5 linked regions of the Homo sapiens genome follow. The protein of the gene in region 5 purifies or fractionates together with the protein of the main gene of each other region. This does not show direct contact. Each region holds a gene or a part of one and is shown on either strand. Other genes may lie near its edges. The genes, in order: NEBL, PLTP, LNPEP, TMEM67 and TAFA5.

What was found.
Region 1: the proteins of TAFA5 (region 5) and NEBL purify together in Homo sapiens (affinity purification with mass spectrometry; one large-scale study listed by BioGRID and IntAct). This does not show direct contact.
Region 2: the proteins of TAFA5 (region 5) and PLTP purify together in Homo sapiens (affinity purification with mass spectrometry; one large-scale study listed by BioGRID and IntAct). This does not show direct contact.
Region 3: the proteins of TAFA5 (region 5) and LNPEP purify together in Homo sapiens (affinity purification with mass spectrometry; one large-scale study listed by BioGRID and IntAct). This does not show direct contact.
Region 4: the proteins of TAFA5 (region 5) and TMEM67 purify together in Homo sapiens (affinity purification with mass spectrometry; one large-scale study listed by BioGRID and IntAct). This does not show direct contact.

What each region holds. Positions count from the first base shown.
Region 1 is NC_000010.11:20,890,804-20,894,321, forward strand, and holds part of NEBL (nebulette), read right to left. Parts: intron 1-3,518. UniProt on the Homo sapiens protein: Binds to actin and plays an important role in the assembly of the Z-disk. May functionally link sarcomeric actin to the desmin intermediate filaments in the heart muscle sarcomeres.
Region 2 is NC_000020.11:45,902,150-45,905,667, forward strand, and holds part of PLTP (phospholipid transfer protein isoform a precursor), read right to left. Parts: intron 2,970-3,518; coding exon 2,793-2,969; intron 2,711-2,792; coding exon 2,651-2,710; intron 456-2,650; coding exon 291-455; intron 186-290; coding exon 118-185; intron 1-117. UniProt on the Homo sapiens protein: Mediates the transfer of phospholipids and free cholesterol from triglyceride-rich lipoproteins (low density lipoproteins or LDL and very low density lipoproteins or VLDL) into high-density lipoproteins (HDL) as well as the exchange of phospholipids between triglyceride-rich lipoproteins themselves.
Region 3 is NC_000005.10:96,942,567-96,946,084, reverse strand, and holds part of LNPEP (leucyl-cystinyl aminopeptidase), read right to left. Parts: intron 1-3,518. UniProt on the Homo sapiens protein: Release of an N-terminal amino acid, cleaves before cysteine, leucine as well as other amino acids. Degrades peptide hormones such as oxytocin, vasopressin and angiotensin III, and plays a role in maintaining homeostasis during pregnancy.
Region 4 is NC_000008.11:93,778,876-93,782,393, reverse strand, and holds part of TMEM67 (meckelin isoform 1 precursor), read right to left. Parts: intron 1,802-3,518; coding exon 1,647-1,801; intron 1,521-1,646; coding exon 1,412-1,520; intron 737-1,411; coding exon 650-736; intron 1-649. UniProt on the Homo sapiens protein: Required for ciliary structure and function. Part of the tectonic-like complex which is required for tissue-specific ciliogenesis and may regulate ciliary membrane composition.
Region 5 is NC_000022.11:48,496,037-48,499,554, forward strand, and holds part of TAFA5 (chemokine-like protein TAFA-5 isoform 1 precursor), read left to right. Parts: intron 1-3,518. UniProt on the Homo sapiens protein: Acts as a chemokine-like protein by regulating cell proliferation and migration through activation of G protein-coupled receptors (GPCRs), such as S1PR2 and FPR2. Stimulates chemotactic migration of macrophages mediated by the MAPK3/ERK1 and AKT1 pathway.

The sequences.
Region 1 (3,518 bases), on a different chromosome or scaffold from region 5:
AGTATAATCACACTGTCACACTAATTGCTGCACAATCTGGAAACTGGGAAGGCAAAACTATGACTCATTGAGAAGATGCAGGTAATTTGCTAAAAGTTGTATCACTCTGTAATATGCTCGTGTTTATCCTCCCAAGACCATAAATACTTAAACTGAAAAAGTGTTCCTGTTTCAGATGATAAATTATATGTTCTCCCTAATTATAACCCAAAAGTGGAGCTGAATTGTATATACTACCTGGTTCTTAGAGGATGTGAATAATATTGATGTTATACACTAATGGTACATGGAGATTTTCCCATATGCAAGCCTGATTTGACGGGCATTACTTAACCTGTGGTAGAACTAGATACAGATTAAGTGAAGTTATTTCAAAATCCCATATTTCACTGCTGTGACTCTTGGATATCAGATGCCTACCACATTAAACATTTGCTTTATTCATGAAATCAACACGAGAACATATTTATCTTATCTGAGCACTAAATTACTTTTTTTTCTTCTCAGAGATTAGCCATAATTTTAGGTTCCTGCAAATCACCCTCCTCAGCCACTAGTAATTAAACTGTTAATGGCAGTATGATAAATAGTAGGCTATTTTGATCATATGGAGAAAAAAGTATCTCCGTTATATAATTAAGTGTGAGAGAAAATAGCCTATCATTAGGCTTAAGTTTGACTCATTATTTTTATCTTTTGCCACCATCTATTCCCCATCACATTCACATTCTTCACTGCAGTGGTATGTGCTTGTGGCTACAGCCTCCTGATAAAGTCTGACACATGCAGAACGTTCAGGACAGGAGGACTGGATAAGGGTGAGGTATTTACTTCTTCTGTTAGGCAGACAAATAGCTCAGTCTTAATTGTAGACTCTATTTTTTTTTCTTGGGTCTTTATTAAAAAGATACACATATTTGTATATTTTAAATGAAGGTGTATTTAAAATTTAAGATCCTTTACAATTGTACAATTCAAGAGAAATTGTACAATTTGTTAGAAGTCACACACAATCATGTGTGATTTCAAGTGAATTGTGCAATATGAATGACAATAAGCAAAGAATGTTAGATTTTTAAATACATAAGGAATATTTATATAAATATTAGATACATATTAGTAGCCTTCCTACACCAAGATAACAGGAAATGATCATTGAAAGGGAACTATATTGGTCAATGAAACAAATCTTAGGTAAAATAAAAATCACTGAATAGATTGCTATATTTTATTACAGCCATGTCTACATCTTACAATTTCGGGTTGACACCATCTATTGGATAGACTGGCCACTCCCATTATCTCCTATTAAAAGAGCCCAGATGGATTAATGAGAGCAGCCAGGCTCCTGCCCAGCCCCAGAGGACAAGCTGATCTAAACCAGGCATGGTCATGCCATCCAGTGTTTGGCCTGGGGAGCCACACTCTCTGTGACTTTAGTGGAAATCTTCCCAGAAGTGCTTCTAGTGTTTCTGGTACAAAGGGAGAGATGCTGCACAACCCTGTGACATTCTGTCTTCCACATTTTTCTTTCTCAATCAAAGGGAAGGCAGCAGCAATGATGTCATTACCAAGGAATAAGCCACCATACTAATGACGACAGAATAGAAGGAAAGGAGCCTGGGAGACTGATAACACCCATAGTACCCAGCCTGAACTACCTACCTCCGGGCTTTATATGTGGAGGCTGGGGAAACAAAAACCTACTTGTTAAGCCATTGTGTTAGAGTTTTCCTGTTTTTACAGTCATCTGCACTCCTACCGAATACACAACCCAACACCAAAAGACAAAAAGGGCAAAATTGATGACTTTATGATCATTAAGATGTCCCAAACATTGACCTTCTCTTTTGCCCTCACCCACAAATCCCACGTCTCCATTACAATTAGGATGAATTTAGTGCAGGGTCGCTTCCTCCTCCTGGCCAAGTTTGTTTGAATGAGTATGAGATTAGCTAAAGGCTGAAATCGGATGACAGACATGGAGATGTTTGCGGATCTTTCCTTTCACAAGAATTCTTAACTGAAAGTATCTGGAAAGGCTCTTCACAAGTGAAATCATACAAGTTAAATTCAATACACCCTGGAAGGAAAAACAATGGCTCCATCATTATTTAACTGGGCTGGACATAGCTAAGATCACTCTCCCAGGTTTTCTGATACCATCTAAGCTTTCTCTGGAGGAGTAACCACAGAATTTAATGTTTTTGGCATTGAAAGGATTTACCCACAACAACGTTCATTTGCCTGGAAAATATTCTTCCTGCTGCCATGCAGATGAACACCCTAAACAGCCTTGAACTAAACACTGAGAGGCTGCATGCAGATGTGGTCCACCTGCTCTGCAGAAGGCTCTTTCTGCCTAATCTACAAGAAACATACAAAAGATTCCCTTTTGCCCAATCTTTTTTATGACTCCCCATCAGAAGACTACTAGATCCAGGATTCTGAATGCTCAATAGAGAGGATAGGTTTAACTTATTCAAGGGATTGATTAGATAATGTTAGGTTAGACTAACAGGAATAAATATGACAGAGAGAATATCTGTGAAAATATATCTGAGAAAATAATAGTATTATGTGATTAACAGAAAAATAAAAGAGGCTGCCTCAGAAGACCAGCTGTTCTTCAAGACTGGGAAGTGAGTTGTGCAAAGAGGAACCCCATAATGTGGGTAGAGCAAGTGCAAAGCAGAAACTAGGTGGGGGGAGAAAGAGAAAGAAAGAAAAATGCCTTATACTGATGCCCAAAGTGAAGCCACTTGACCTGAAAAACGGACATTTCTCTCTATGGAGAATTCTAAGCAGTGCAGGCTTCCTAGGGCTGATCTCTAGGCCAATCTTGCTTAACATTTCTATAAAATTGTCTGACAAGGGGATGATATAGCAGTGTCTACAGGTCTGCTGACTCCAAGCTGTCTCAGTAAGGGAAACGGCAAACTGAGATGAACTTCAGAAGTTCTCAAAGGGCCAGGCAAGAGGGCAGAAAACTACAGATTAGATCTAGCCCTAGTGTGGTTAAAATAATTCAAACTATTATTTAAAGATGATGGGTCCTAAGCTATCAGCTACAGGTCAGAAATTAGGAATGAAATGGCTCTGATGGTCTACAGATTATCAAGCTGATCTAACAGCTTTCTGCAGCTCCCAAGTCTAAGAAACTCTTCATAGCATCATAAAGGGTGCTAGAAGCTAAGCAAAACATCATCCTGCTCTACACGTGATCTAGACCGTCCACATCTGTACCACTCTGCACAGTTCTGATTATTACATATTGGTTATTAAGGATATATGAAAGCTGGAAGAAGTCCAAAGAGTAACAATTAGGCTGCACCATGAAGAGAAGTCCATGAAACCATCCCTCTCATCTACAGAAACGAAGCAGGGCCAGCCCGGTGGCTCACACCTGTAATCCCAGCACTCTGGGAGAACGATGCAGGAGAATCACTTAAAGCCAAGAGCTTGAGACCAGCCTGGGCAACATAGTGAGACTCCATCTCTACGAAAAAGAAAATGAA
Region 2 (3,518 bases), on a different chromosome or scaffold from region 5:
AGACAGACCCCAGCTCTCAGTGGCTTACAGGTATCACTGTACTTTAAGCGCAACATCCCTGTGGACAGGTGTGATTGTCCTCCAATCACTGAGGTGCAGGGAAGTGCGCCTGCCTACCTGCGCAGGTCCAGCTGCGTGCGCAGGGCCTTCCCCCGGAGAGCCATCTTGGCGCTGAGACGGGCGTCCTGCAGGAACATGGGGAGGAGGATGTTACTGACCCAGAAGGTCAGTAACCCACAGCCCATTTTTCCCTGACCCCCAGCCAGCAGCCCCCACTCTGGGACCCGTACCATAGTCATGCTGGACAGCTGGACCTCAGGCTGGTCTGGTGGGACCAGGGCAATGGTGACGCTAGCAGTGACAGAGATGGTGGTGCCAGAGGGCTTGATGGTGCAGCGCGGTGGGGCCAGGACCCGCAGCTCCAGCTTCAATGGGGAGTCAATCACTGCTGGGCTCTGGGGGATGAGCAGCAGGGGCGGGTCAAGTCCCTGCCATTTCCTTTGGAGCCCCCAGGGAAGAAGGGGAAGGAAGGCAGGTGCAGCTTCTGTCCTCTGGGGACTCTCATATTGCAAATACAGAGGGAGCTCTGGCTTCCAAAACTCTCACATCTGCATCTAGCCTTCATGCCTTTGCCACACAAAGAAACAGGAATGTGTTCTTCTCTTTCTGCTTCCTAAATACATCTCAATATTCAGGTCTATCTCCAATCCAGACTCTTTGTGGATGTCCTTTTTGCATTAGTATCTCAGCCCTTGCCATGTCTTCTGTTTTTGATATGGAGTCTCACTTTGTTGCCCAGGCTGGAGTGCAGTGGCACAATCTCGGCTCACTGCAACTCTGTCTCCCAGGTTCAGGCGATTCTCCCGCCTCAGCCTCCCAAGTAGCTGAGATTACAGGCACCTGCCGCCATGCCCGGCTAAGTTTTGTATTTTTAATAGAAACGGGGTTTCGCCATATTGGCCAGGCTAGTGATTCGCCCACCTCGGCCTCCCAAAGTGCTGGGATTACAGGCATGAGCCACCACACCCAAACCCCTTGCCATATCTTTTTGCTCTCTCTCTCCTTTTTTTTTGAGACAGGGTCTCTGTTGCCCAGGCTGGAGTGCAGTGGCATGATCACGGCTCACTGCAGCCTCAACCTCCTCAGCTCAAATTATCCTGCCACATCAGCCTCCTGAACAGCTGAGACCACAGGTTCATGCCATCACGCCTGGCTTATTTTTGTATTTGTTTTTTGTTTTGGTTTTTGCTTTTGTGTTTTCGTAGAGACGGGGTTTGGCCATGTTGCCCATGCTGGTCTCAAACTCCTGGGCTCAAGTGATCTGCCGGCTTCAGCCTCCCACAGTGTTGGGATTACAGGCGTGAGCCACCGTGCCTGGCCATATCTTCTTTCTCTAAACTGCTATGCCTTCTTCTATAGGCAGTGAAGGAATACTATAAGATGCAACTGCCTAATCTTCACCAAACATGATTCTAAACACTGTATATGTGTTGGTTCCTTTAAACCTCATAATAACCATGTGAGGCCGATATTATTACTGCCAATTTTGTTGTTGTTATTTTTTACAAATTTATTTTTCAGGCTGAGTCGTCATGGCAGAGAATTGCTTGAACCCGGGAGGTTCAATTGCAGTGAGCCAAGATTGCGCCACTGCACTCCAGCCTGGGTGACAGAGTGAGACTTTGTCCCCCCACCGAAAAAAAAAGATCTGACTAAAAATTTATTTTTCAATAGAGACAGTGTCTCACTGTGTTGCCCAGGCTGGTCTCAAACTCCTGGGCTCAAGCAATTTTCCTACCTTGACCTCTCAAAGTTCTCAGAGTATAGGCGTGAGCCATCATGCCCAGCCATATCCCCATTTTTGAGATGGGGAAATTGAGGCACAGATAGGTTAAGTAACTTGTAGAGGTTATGTAGTTACTCAGTTTCAGAACTAGGCTTGAAGCCCAGGCAGTCTGACAATAGAGACCCTGCCCTGCCATAAATTGGATGATGATAATGACTGAATTATTTCTTTTAAAATTTGTAATTCTGCTAGGTGCGGTGGCTCACACCTGTAATCCTAGCACTTTGGGAGGCCAAAAATGGGTGATCACTTGAGCCCAGGAGTTCAAGGACAGCCTGAGCAACATAATGAAACTCTGTCTCAACAAAATATAAAAATTAGCGGGGTGTGGTGGCACAAGCCTGTAATTCCAGCTACTCAAGAGGCTGAAGCAGGAGGATGGCTTGAGCCCTGGGAGGCAGAGGTTGCAGTGAGCCTAGATTGTGCCACTGCATTCCAACTTGGGTGACAAAGTGAGACTCTTGTCTCAAAAAAAAAAATAAATAAAATGTGTAACTCTTACTCTCCTCCCCAATACACAAATAAACAAAAGTATATGTGAATTATTATTAAAGCCCTCACACTTGCAAAGCTTGGGTTCTCACTAATCCTCACAGCAGCTCTGCGAAGGAGATGGGGCAGGAAGGAGCAGGAAGGAGCAGACCGCTTCACAGACAGGAACAGCCATGACAAGGCGAGGGGGATTGGCCACAGACAAGAGGCCAGGGCCCTGTCTGCGTGGCTGCCACTGGGGGCCCCACCTGCACCCCTCCTTGGTCTCACTGGTGTGCAGGTGGCCCTATCCCTGCCCCCGCCAGCACTCACCAGCAGGACAATGCTCCCAAAGTAGGTGGCCCTCAGCAGCATGTCCAGGTCGTGGGGCACCTGAACAGGGGAATCAGGAGTGAGGGAGTGAGCTCTGTCACAGACCTTCTCTTGCCCATCCCACAAACAGGCCATGACATACCTTGTCCCCCACCAGCAACAGCTGCAGGGCCCCCGCCCGGAAGTAGCTCTCCATGGCAGAGTCGAAGAAGAACTCAGAGAAGGCCACATACACCATCCGCTCTTCCTCCTGCAGCTGGGGCTCCACTGCCCGGTTGGGGAGGCTCCAGTTCCTCTCAGTCAGGGGGAAGAAGGCCCCCTGGGGTGGGGCATTCACAGTCAGGGTCAAGGCAGACTGGCCTGGCACCTGGACTGACAGCAGGTGTCTCCCAGCCCCGTGCTAGGCACTGTGGGGGGATGGTGGGAACCCAGCTGCTGTTCTTGGAGGATTCACAAGCACATCTCTTAAAAGGCATTGGAAGGAGGACACCTGCTACCAGGGGGCGAGCCCGTCAGACTGGAGGAGGGAGGGTCAGGAAAGGTTTCAGGGAAGAGGTGACATCTGAGTGGGCCTTGAAAGCTAGAGGCAGTAACAACAGCTACTGTTTACATATATTGTGCATACTCATGCTTCTTTGCCAAGTACTCTAAGCTCTTCACATAGATCGACTTCTTTAATCTGCATAACAACGTGTGTTTTCTTACTAGATTATTTCCATTTACATGTTAGGAAACTGGCCAACTGAAAACTTATGCTTAGGGCCGTGCAGCTAGTCAGTGGCAGAGCTAGGATTTGAACTTCAGGCATTCTTTTTCTCTTTGTAGAGAAGGAGGTCTCACTATGATGCCCAAGCTGGTCTCAAACTCC
Region 3 (3,518 bases), on a different chromosome or scaffold from region 5:
CACACTAGCTCCTCTCACCAAGACTCAAGTGTCATGGCAGCCTCCCTTATTTCATCATTGAGGCCCTTCCGACAATTATAGGACAAGCAGACACCAGACATGTATTACATTCTTTCTGTCTTCAAAGCACTTTACCAATACCAACTTAAAAAGATATTTAAACATCTCCTTTTGATTGAGCTCTCAAGATTGAGTTCTCCTCATCATTCCCACTAATCTCTATAAATTTTTCCTCTAAAGAGGATCTTGGAATGATTTTGTAAACCAAAAATAAAATTCTAGGCCCCTCAACTGACCGAATGGACCCCTCTGACTGAACGGCCAAGGGCATTCCAAAGTAAACATGAAAAACTAGCTCAGGCTATGATGGGAAGCGGGGGTCAGACGCACCTCATTATACTCTCCTCCCTTTGGAATTCTGGCACAACTGACCAGCATTAATATTAAAACAGAGATCTTAAGACTGACGAAACACTCTTTGTAGCAATAAAATACCAAATTCTAAACTGACTCTAGTATAACATCACACAACAGATAGCAGGCTGTGAAAGAAATAAAGGTATTTTACCCCAAAATATATTTCTTAGACCTATTTTGAAATGGCCCTGCAAAGCTGTCTCTTGTGTGGAACATTCTATAGAAAAAGACCTTTCTGATCTCTTTTTTTTTTTTTTTTTTTGAGATAGGGTCTCACTCTCTTGCCCAGGCTGCAGTGCAGTGGCATGACCACAGCTCACTTCCACTTTGCCCAGGCTCAAGTGATCCTTTCACCTCAGCCTCTCAAGCAGCTGGGACCACAGGTGCATACCATCACACCTGACTAATTTTTTTTTTTAATTTTTAATTTTTTTGTAGAGACAGGCTCTCACTATGTTGCCCAGGCTGGTCTTGAACTGCTGGCCTCAAGCAATCTTCCTGCCTTGGCCTCCCAAAGTGCTAGGATTACAGGTGTGAGCCACTGCACCACCCCAGGTCTTTTTTTGATCCAGGAGAGATTTAACTAAGAGTCTGGCACATTTTACGTTCTGATAAGAGATAATAACCATCTATTCTCTGAAAGCCTGCTACCTGGAGGCTTCGTCTACATATTAAGAACCCTGGTCTCCATGACCCCTTACCTTATCTTAACCCAGACACTCCTTTCTATGGATTCCAGGTCTTTAGATAATAACTTAATTATTTCGACCAACTGCCAATCAGAAAATCTTTGAATGTGGCCACATGTGTGGCTCATGCCTGTAATCCCAGCACTTTGGGAGGCTGAGGTGGGTGATGACTTGAGGCCAGGAGTTCAAGACCACCCTGGGCAATATGGCGAAATCTCATCTCTACTGAAAAAACACAAAAATTAGCTGGGTGTGGTGGCAACATGCCTATAATCCCAGCTACTCAGGAGGCTGAGGCACAAGAATTGCTTGAACCTGGGCGGCGGAGTTTGCAGTGAGCTGAGATTGCACCACTGCACTCCAGTCTGGGTGACAGAATGAGACTCTGTCTCAAAAAAAAAAAAAAAAAAAAAAAAAAGCAAAAATAAGAAAAACAAAAAAGAAAATCTTTGAATCCACCTATGAACTGGAATAGAAGTCCCCGCTTTGAGTTATCCCCTTTCCAGACTGAGCCAATGTACACTTTACATGTATTGATTGTTGTCTGCCTATAACTTCTGTCTCCCTAAAATGTATAACATCAAGCTGTAACCCAACCATGTTGGGCACATGTTCTCAGGACTTCTTGAGACTGTGCTTTGGGCCTTGGTCACACATTATTTATCTCAGAATAAGCCTCTTTAAAGATTTTACAGTTTGACTCTTTTCATTGACAATGAAATGTTTCATTGACAATGTAATGATGTTTCATTGATGAATATACTAACAACTGTTTTAAATTTGACAAAATAACAGTTTCAGCTGTGAGAAATACTATGGCTTAAGCCTCCTTCCTTACCAGAAATTTTCTCTATGGCACTGAATGACACCTGAGTCAGTTGTCCGGGAAATGCTCCCACATAGCACTGTTCATCACTTGCTGCAAGAGGAAGGGAGCACACCCAACCCATAGAGGCATCCTTTTCTCACTGCACTCCTCATTCTTCTGTTCCCTCAGTTGAAGAAGCCTTCTTTAACTTCCTTCACCCCAGATCATTGGCTGGAGAAGACTCTGAGCCCCACAATCCAGAGAAATTCAGACAACTGATTCAAGTTCTGGTTCAGTGACTACATTTTTGAAATATGTGGAATGCCCAGGAGTACCTTCATTAAGCAATATGTATTAGAAGAAAAAGAATTTCAAAAAGTCTCCTACAATTGAACTTGATCCTCCATTGTTTTTTGAAACTCCCTTGGAAGCTTGAATTTTCCTTATTTGGCAAATGACCTGGTTTCCTCCTCATTTACATGTTAAGGATGGAATTTTAAAAAAATTAATTGGTTCATTGTTCTATCACAAGCACCAGTAGAAAAGTGAAGCAAAGCCAGGCTATAAAGAATAGTAGGCTGGCCACAGGGCCGCACTGGCTCACACCTATAGTACCAGCACTTGGGGAGGTCAAGACAGGCAGAACATTGGAGCCCAGGAGTTCGAGACCAGCCTGGCCAACATGGCAAAACTCCATCTCTACAAAAAATACAAAAATTAGCCAGGCATGGTGGTGTGCACCTGTGGTCCCAGTTACTCGGGAGGCTGAGGCAGGAGAATCGCTTGAGCCTGAGAAGTCAAGGCTGCAGTGCTGTGGCCGTGCCACTGCACTCCAGCCAAGCAAGACCCTGTTCCCGTCCCTCCCAAAAAAAGGAACAGCAAATGACTGCTACCATGGTAGTCCCAAAAGGTAGATAGCTCTCTATAGTTTTCTTTTTTTTTTTTTTAAACAACTGGTAATCATTTATTAAAATAGTTGACTTAAGCATCTGCAATGGTGACTTCAACCTCAACTCCTGGCTCAATAATGATGGAAGTAATCTGCTTAACAATCTCAGAAAGACTGTGGAAGTCAATGAGTCACTTATGGATTCTCATCTGGAAACAATACCATGTCTCAGAACCTTCATAAGAAGTTTTTCTTGTAATGTTTCTCAAAGTCTTGGTAGGCATTCAAACTGGTCCTATCACTTTAGATTCTTTTCCTTTGATCCATTGATCAAGTCGGCACACACCTTCTCCAAGGATTTTACCTTGCAGCTCGTTAGAGTGATTCTTTTTATTTATTTATTTTTTTATTATACTTTAAGTTCTAGGGTACATGTGCACAACGTGCAGGTTTGTTACATATGTATACATGTGCTATGTTGGTGTGCTGCACCAATTAAGTCGTCATTTACACTAGGTATATCTCCTAATGCTATCCCTCCCCCCTCCCCCGACTCCATGACAGGCCCCAGTGTGTGGTGTTCCCCACCCTGTGTCCAAGTGTTCTCGTATTTTTTTTTTTTTTTTTTTGAGATGGAGTCTCGCTCTGTCACCAGGCTGGAATGCAGTGGCACGATCTCGGCTCACTGCAACCTCCGCCTCCTGGGTCCAAGTGA
Region 4 (3,518 bases), on a different chromosome or scaffold from region 5:
TGCAGCAAAATAATACAACAGATAAATCTCACAAATGTTTTCTATTCTTATACTCAAGAGTTCTCAAACCCGAACATGGATATATGCTCTACATAATACTTATTTAATGTATCAAGGATATGAAAAGTTAAGGGAACATCTGTTATAAATGAAAGTCATAACTTTAAAGAAATAAAACTTAGCCAGGCATGGTGGCTCATGCCTGCAATCCCAGCGCTTTGGGAGGCCAAGAAGGGCGGATCACGAGGTCAGGAGATCAAGACCATCCTGGCTAACATGGTGAAATCCCGTCTCTACTAAAAGTACATAAAAATTAGCTGGACGTGGTGGCAGTCGCCTGTAGTTCCAGCTCCCAGCTGAAGCAGGAGAATGGCGTGAACCCGCAAGGCGGAGCTTGTAGTGAGCTGAGATCGCGCCACTGCACTCCAGCCTGGTTAAGAAAGCGAGACTCCATCTCAAAAAAAAAAGAAAAAACAAACAAACAAACAAACAAACAAAAAACTTAAGAAAGTCTAATTTAAAGCATCAGAAAAAAAATCAACTGTAGTATGTAACTGATGCTTTATTCATACAATAATCTTTTCCTCTTGGCTTTGTCTCAGGCAAAAATAATGCATGTTATTAATTCTTTAACTAGAATCATGCTTACCTGTAAAACACCTCCTTCTAAAGTTTGCCACTTGAGAAAATTTCCTCTTATATCATAGGAAGCAGCAACAAACTTCAGTTTTGTATTCTGATTAAAGAAAACGAGCAAAATCAGGTCAAATACTCTGAAAGTAATACAATATCCTATAAAGAAATTTTCATTGTTGACTGATCTTTTTTGTTGAAAAATTACATTCAATTATCTTTATTTTGAGGTTCAATTAATCTATTTCTATGACTAAATAGACCTGAAAGAATTAGACTGGTTTTTTGCATGAAAATTATTATTCTAGAATTGAGAGGCAGCACTAGTGACAGATAGCCTCCTTTTGAACCTGTTAAATAGGAGGCAGTGTGGGAGAATAGTATCTCCTCATTCTGGAAGGTCAAAAAGTTACAGGTAGGAATTTGGCCCTGTGAAGTGCTGAGCAATGTCACAGAGCCCCAATCAATCTTTGGAAGCACTTCTTTAAGGTGTGGAAAAAACAGGACAGAGATTTTTTGCATTTGGTGATGAAAACTGCTCTTCCCAACCCTACAAGTACAACTTCTTGCCATAACCACACAATCCAGAAGTATCCACATATTCAGTAAGATAGCTAAACTCTATACTATTTAGTTCTTATGAGTTGTTGACATTTATATTTAGTTTAGTAACTGAGTTTGTACCAACAACCTAAAAAGGCAAGAATTGTAACTTTATTACCTTTTAAAATTATAAATCAAAATGTAGTTATCCTCTAATGATATTAGACACTTTTACCTGGTTTTCTCCTTTAAAACTGAAATTTGTAGGAAGAGAGGTAGAACTGAGCACTTGAGGTGCTAATCCTAACTGGTCTCCATAAAACAGCCAAGGAAGATTCTGTCTCCTATAAACAGTTACAACTGTTTTAATAATGGAGAATAAATATTTCTTATTATTAGTATTTGTGAATATATTAATAACTGCACTGAATTCAGTCAAAATAACATTTCATCAATCAAAATATCCTTACCAAAATGAAATAGAATGAACAGTGCTCAGTCCAGCAGTATTTTCAAAGATAAACTGAAATAGTCCACATGCATCAAATGTGGCAAAGTCGTAAGAATTCATGTTCATCACACACATATTTCCAAGAGCTTGACAAGATGTTAGATTGGCATATACCTACAACAGAACAATGGCAAAGAAAAGTAACATGAACCTGAACAGTCTATGCAAAAGTTGATATAAAAATTTTACTTTGTGCAGGTCTGTTCCAAGATGGCCGAGTAGGAACAGCTCCGGTCTGCAGCTCCCAGCATAATCAACGCAGAAGGCAGGTGATTTCTGCATTTCCAACTGAGATACCTGGTTCATCTCATTGGGACTGGTTGGACAGTGGGTGCAGCCCATGGAGGGCAAGCTGAAGCAGGGTGGGGCATCACCTCACCCAGGAAGCGCAAGGGGTTGGGGGATTTCCCTTTCCTAGCCAAGGGAAGCCGTGACAGACTGTACCTGGAAAAATGGGACACCTCCACCTAAACACTGCGCTTTTCCAATGGTCTTAGCAAACGGCACACCAGATTACATCCCACGCCTGGCTCGGTGGGTCCCACGCCTACAGAGCCTTGCTCACTGCTAGCACAGCTGAGATCAACCTGCCAGGCAGCAGGCTGGCAGGGGGAGGGGTGTCTGCCATTGCTGAGGCTTGAGTAGGAAAACAAAGCAGCCGGGGAAGCTCCAACTGGGTGGAGCCCACCGCAGTTCAGCAAGGCCTGCTGCCTCTGTTGACTCCACCTCTGGCAGCAGGGCATAGCTGAACAAAAGGCACCAGAAACTTCTGCAGAGTTAAACATCCCTGTCTGACAGCTCTGAAGAGAGCAGTGGTTCTCCCAGCACAGCGTTTGAGCTCAGAGAATGGATAGACTGCCTCCTCAAGTGGATCCCTGACCCTGTGTAGCCTAACTGGGAGACACCTCCCAGTAGGGGCCGACAGACACCTCATACAGGTGGGCGCCCCTCTGGGACGAAGCTTCCAGAGGAAGGATCAGGCAGCAATATTTGCTGTTCTACAACCTCCGCTGGTAATATCCAGGAAAACAGCGTCTGGAGTGGACCTCTAGCAAACTCCAACAGACCTGCAGCTGAGGGACCTGTTAGAAGGAAAACTAACAAATAGAAAGGAATAGCATCAACATCAACAAAAAGGACATCCACATCAAAACCCCATCCACATCAAAACCCCATCTGTAGGTCACCAACATCAAAGACCAAAGGTAGGTAAAACCATAAAGATGGGGAGAAACCAGAGCAGAAAAGCTGAAAATTCTAAAAACCAGAGTGCCTCCTCTCTTCCAAAGGAATGCAGCTCCTCACCAGCAACAGAACAAAGCTGGATGGAGAATGACTTTGACAAACTGACAGAAGTACGCTTCAGAAGGTCGGTAATAACAAACTTCTCTGAGCTAAAGGAGGATGTTCGAACCCGTCGGAAGGAAGCTAAAAACCTTGAAAAAAGATTAGACAAATGGCTAACTAGAATAAACAGTGTAGAGAAGACCTTAAATGACCTGATGGAGCTAAAAGACATGGCACAAGAACTATGTGATGCATGCACAAGCTTCAGTAGCCGATTTGGTCAAGTGGAAGAAAGGGTATCAGTAATTGAAGATCAAATTAATGAAATAAAGCGAGACGACAAGGTTAGAGAAAAAAGACTAAAAAGAAATGAGCAAAGCCTCCAAGAAATATGGGACTATGTGAAAAGACCAAATCTATGTTTGATTGGTGTACCTGAAAGTGATGGGGAAAATGGAACCAAGTTGGAAGACACTCTTCAGGATATTATCCAGGAGAACTTCCCCAACCTAGCAAGGCAGGCCAACATTCAAATTCAGGAAAT
Region 5 (3,518 bases):
CGGCTTACTCCCTAAATGCAGTGGATGCAGGAAGGCATGGTGAGCTAGGCCAGAAAGTGCCCACCTCATGTCTTAGAGGATCCCCTGCTTCCTGAGGCATCCCCTGAGCATGCATCCCCATCCCCTCTCCAGTGCTGTGCGTGTGTGTTGTGGTGGCCACTGTCGGGGTCACTTTCTTCCTTGTTTTGGGCTGTGAGCTTGGGGCATGGCTGCTGGCCTCGGGGGACTGACTGTGGGCTCTCTGGACAGATGCTTTTGGTCACGGCATCTGCTGGGCAGTGAGCTGTTGGGCTGTGAGCTTGGGGCATGGCTGCTGGCCTCGGGGGACTGACTGTGGGCTCTCTGGACAGATGCTTTTGGTCACGGCATCTGCTGGGCAGTGAGCTGTACGGTGAGGCAGCCACAGGGAACCTCCCAGCTCTCAGTGGGCTGAAGCTCCAGAAGGTCACGTGGATGTGGAAACCCTTCTATACAATGATGTCAACCCTGCAGGCAGAGGAGCCAGGGGAGTCAGGGACGCCTGACCAGCTGTGGGGGACAGAGGAGGGCCCACTTGTGGTAGGCGATGTCTTCTGACGTCACCCACTCCACCCAGAGCTGGGCACAGAGGGGTCTGGCTCTACCTCTGCTGGGACTGCCTGCTCGTTTAGGGCGCTGTGTGGTCCTGGTTTGCAGGTGCACCGCAGGGAGAGTTGTGAAGGGCAGGCGGGGTGGTCCAGCCATCAGGGGCCCTGGTTTCCTGGGGGTTAACGGCGTAGGCTGTGCCACCTAAAGGCACATGCAGGAATCTGTCGCCCACAGCATCTTCATGCTTGGTTCAGGATCTCTGAATGAATATAGGAAAGAAAATACAGAGAAAGCAATACCACTAACACAGTAACAGGCTGCTGTGCTTGCATTTCACCTTCCAGAAAGAGGCTTGGCGCCCCCTCACCTCCCAGCCACCAGGGGAGGAGCTGCTGGACTGGAGGCCCCCTCCTTATGGGGAGCGGTGGGGCTGGTCCCGCACAGGGACTGCAGGCCTGCCTGCCTGACTCCAGGTCTGGGCTTCCTCCCGGTGCCAGCTCCACTCCCCACGGGCTCGGGGCTCCCCAGCAGTGGCCCATCCATGGAAATCAGCCCTGCCAGGGACCATGGCCCCGTTCCGCCCCCGCCTGCGGTGTTCCAGGCCGCGCCTCCCTCCTTCCCGTATGGGCGGACCTTGCCCTGGGTGGAGGGAGGACGCAGGGAGGAGAAGCCGGGGCCTGCGGTCCCACGGGGCCCGGCAGGGTTCTTCCATCTTCAGGGATGCTCCGCAGCCTCGCTGCTGGTTTCTGGGCCAGCCCCTTGCCCCTGTTTCTGCACTCGTAGAACAGCTCTAGAAAAGACGGCATTTCCGCCTCAGCGCAGCCAAGAAGCTTGAAAGACAAGACTGGAGTGTCCAGTGGCCAGGGGTCATCAGTCTGGGTTTAGGCCTGGGGGCGGGGCTGAGGCCTGGGGGCGGGGCTGAGGGTCAGAGGAGTAGCTGGAATCCTGGGGGCGGGGCTGAGGCCTGGGGGCGGGGCTGAGGGTCAGAGGAGTAGCTGGAATCCTGGGGGCGGGGCTGGAGGCCTGGGGGCGGGGCTGAGGGTCAGAGGAGTAGCTGGAATCCTGGGGGCGGGGCTGAGGCCTGGGGGCGGGGCTGAGGGTCAGAGGAGTAGCTGGAATCCTGGGGGCGGGGCTGGAGGCCTGGGGGCGGGGCTGAGGGTCAGAGGAGTAGCTGGAATCCTGGGGGCGGGGCTGAGGCCTGGGGGCGGGGCTGAGGGTCAGAGGAGTAGCTGGAATCCTGGGGGCGGGGCTGGAGGCCTGGGGGCGGGGCTGAGGGCAGGGGCAGGTTTGGAGGCCTGGAGGCGGGGCTGAAGGGTGGGGTGGGGCCCACCTGGAGGCGGGGCTGAAGAGTGGGGTGGGGCCCACCTGGAGGCGGGGCTGAAGAGTGGGGTGGGGCCCACCTGGAGGCGGGGCTGAAGAGTGGGCTGAGGGTAGGAGAGGCTGCAAGCCTAGGGGTGGGGCTGCAAGCCTGGGGGCGGGGCTGAAGGGGCAGGGCTGGGGGCCTGAAGGCGGGGCTGAAGAGTGGGGTGGGGCCCACCTGGAGGCGGGGCTGAAGAGTGGGCTGAGGGTAGGAGAGGCTGCAAGCCTAGGGGTGGGGCTGCAAGCCTGGGGGCGGGGCTGAAGGGGCAGGGCTGGGGGCCTGAAGGCGGGGCTGAAGAGTGGGGTGGGGCCCACCTGGAGGCGGGGCTGAAGAGTGGGCTGAGGGTAGGAGTGGCTGCAAGCCTAGGGGTGGGGCTGAAGAGGCAGGGGCTGGAGGGCTGCTGTCCTCTTGCAAACTAAGTCTCCTGGATTCCAAAGATATCTTTGGTTCTAACAGTTTGATTAATAATAATAATATGTGGAATACCTGGGAAGAGCTCAGAATTGGTAGGTATATTTAGTAGGACTTTTCTCGTTGCTAGAGTGGAAAACTCAAACCCTCCTTTTGGCCTCTTTTTCTGGACTTCTGCAGTGACAGCTCCCCAATCTTTGTTCTCGTTAAAGTTGCACTTGTTCCAATTTCTCCCAGTTCAGGGTTTCTCAGGGCAGCACTGGGGTCATTTAGAGCTGGGCCATGCTCTGTGGCAGGGGTCTGCCTGTACATGGCGGGGCTTTGCGAGCACCCCGGCCACCCCCCACTTGATGCCAGGGGCCCCTCCTCCCAGTTGTGACAACCAAAGATGTCTCTGGACCTTGCCGCCTGACCCTGGGACAATCAGCCCACTGGAAGCCCTGCTCTAGCGCACCTATACCTTGTCTGTGGCCCCAGCAAGCACACTTGTGCTGGTATTTCCTGGTGTGGACTCAATACCAGCAGGGTGGCAATCTTACAGTTTCTGGGTTTCTCCACTTCTGCAGCTGGACGGGCCAGCGTGGGGGTCTGAGGAAGTTCAGCCCAAGTCCCCGTCCCGTGCGTGTCCCTTGCCTCCCGTGACTGTTTCTCTGTGCAGAGACAGCTCCTGCAGGCTCAGTGCAGCCCCTCCCAGACCGGCGGAGCTGCTGGAAAGGCTGTCTGCCGGGAGGGAGGTGTCTCTGCACGTTTCCACACACTTCTGTTTCCAGAGCTTGGAATCAGCGCAGGGTTCACCAGTTGCTTGCAATCTCTTCTCTGTCTTAATTTCTCCGCATTTCACATGTAACCGTGCTGCCGATGGTGATGAAGCCATTTAGAGGCAATCAAACACTCCCGCACCGACGGCGGCGCCCATCAGCCTTTCCCCTCATCTTCCTGCTTGTTTCATTACGCCTGCCTTTCCAGGAGGTGGCTGAGTCCCCAAGTGTGATTTTTGGAGATTTCTGTGGTGTCTACAGCCCGCATTTCCTAAGTGGATTTCTCCCCAGGAAGTTCTGCTCTGCTGGTGGGACCCTTGGTTGCCTAGAGTTTGCTTTATGTCCATCTCTGCGCCTCCCCCAGCCTAGCACCGACGTGCCCTTCTGTTCTAGCCGGCTCCCCTGACTCTGGTCCCTGGTTC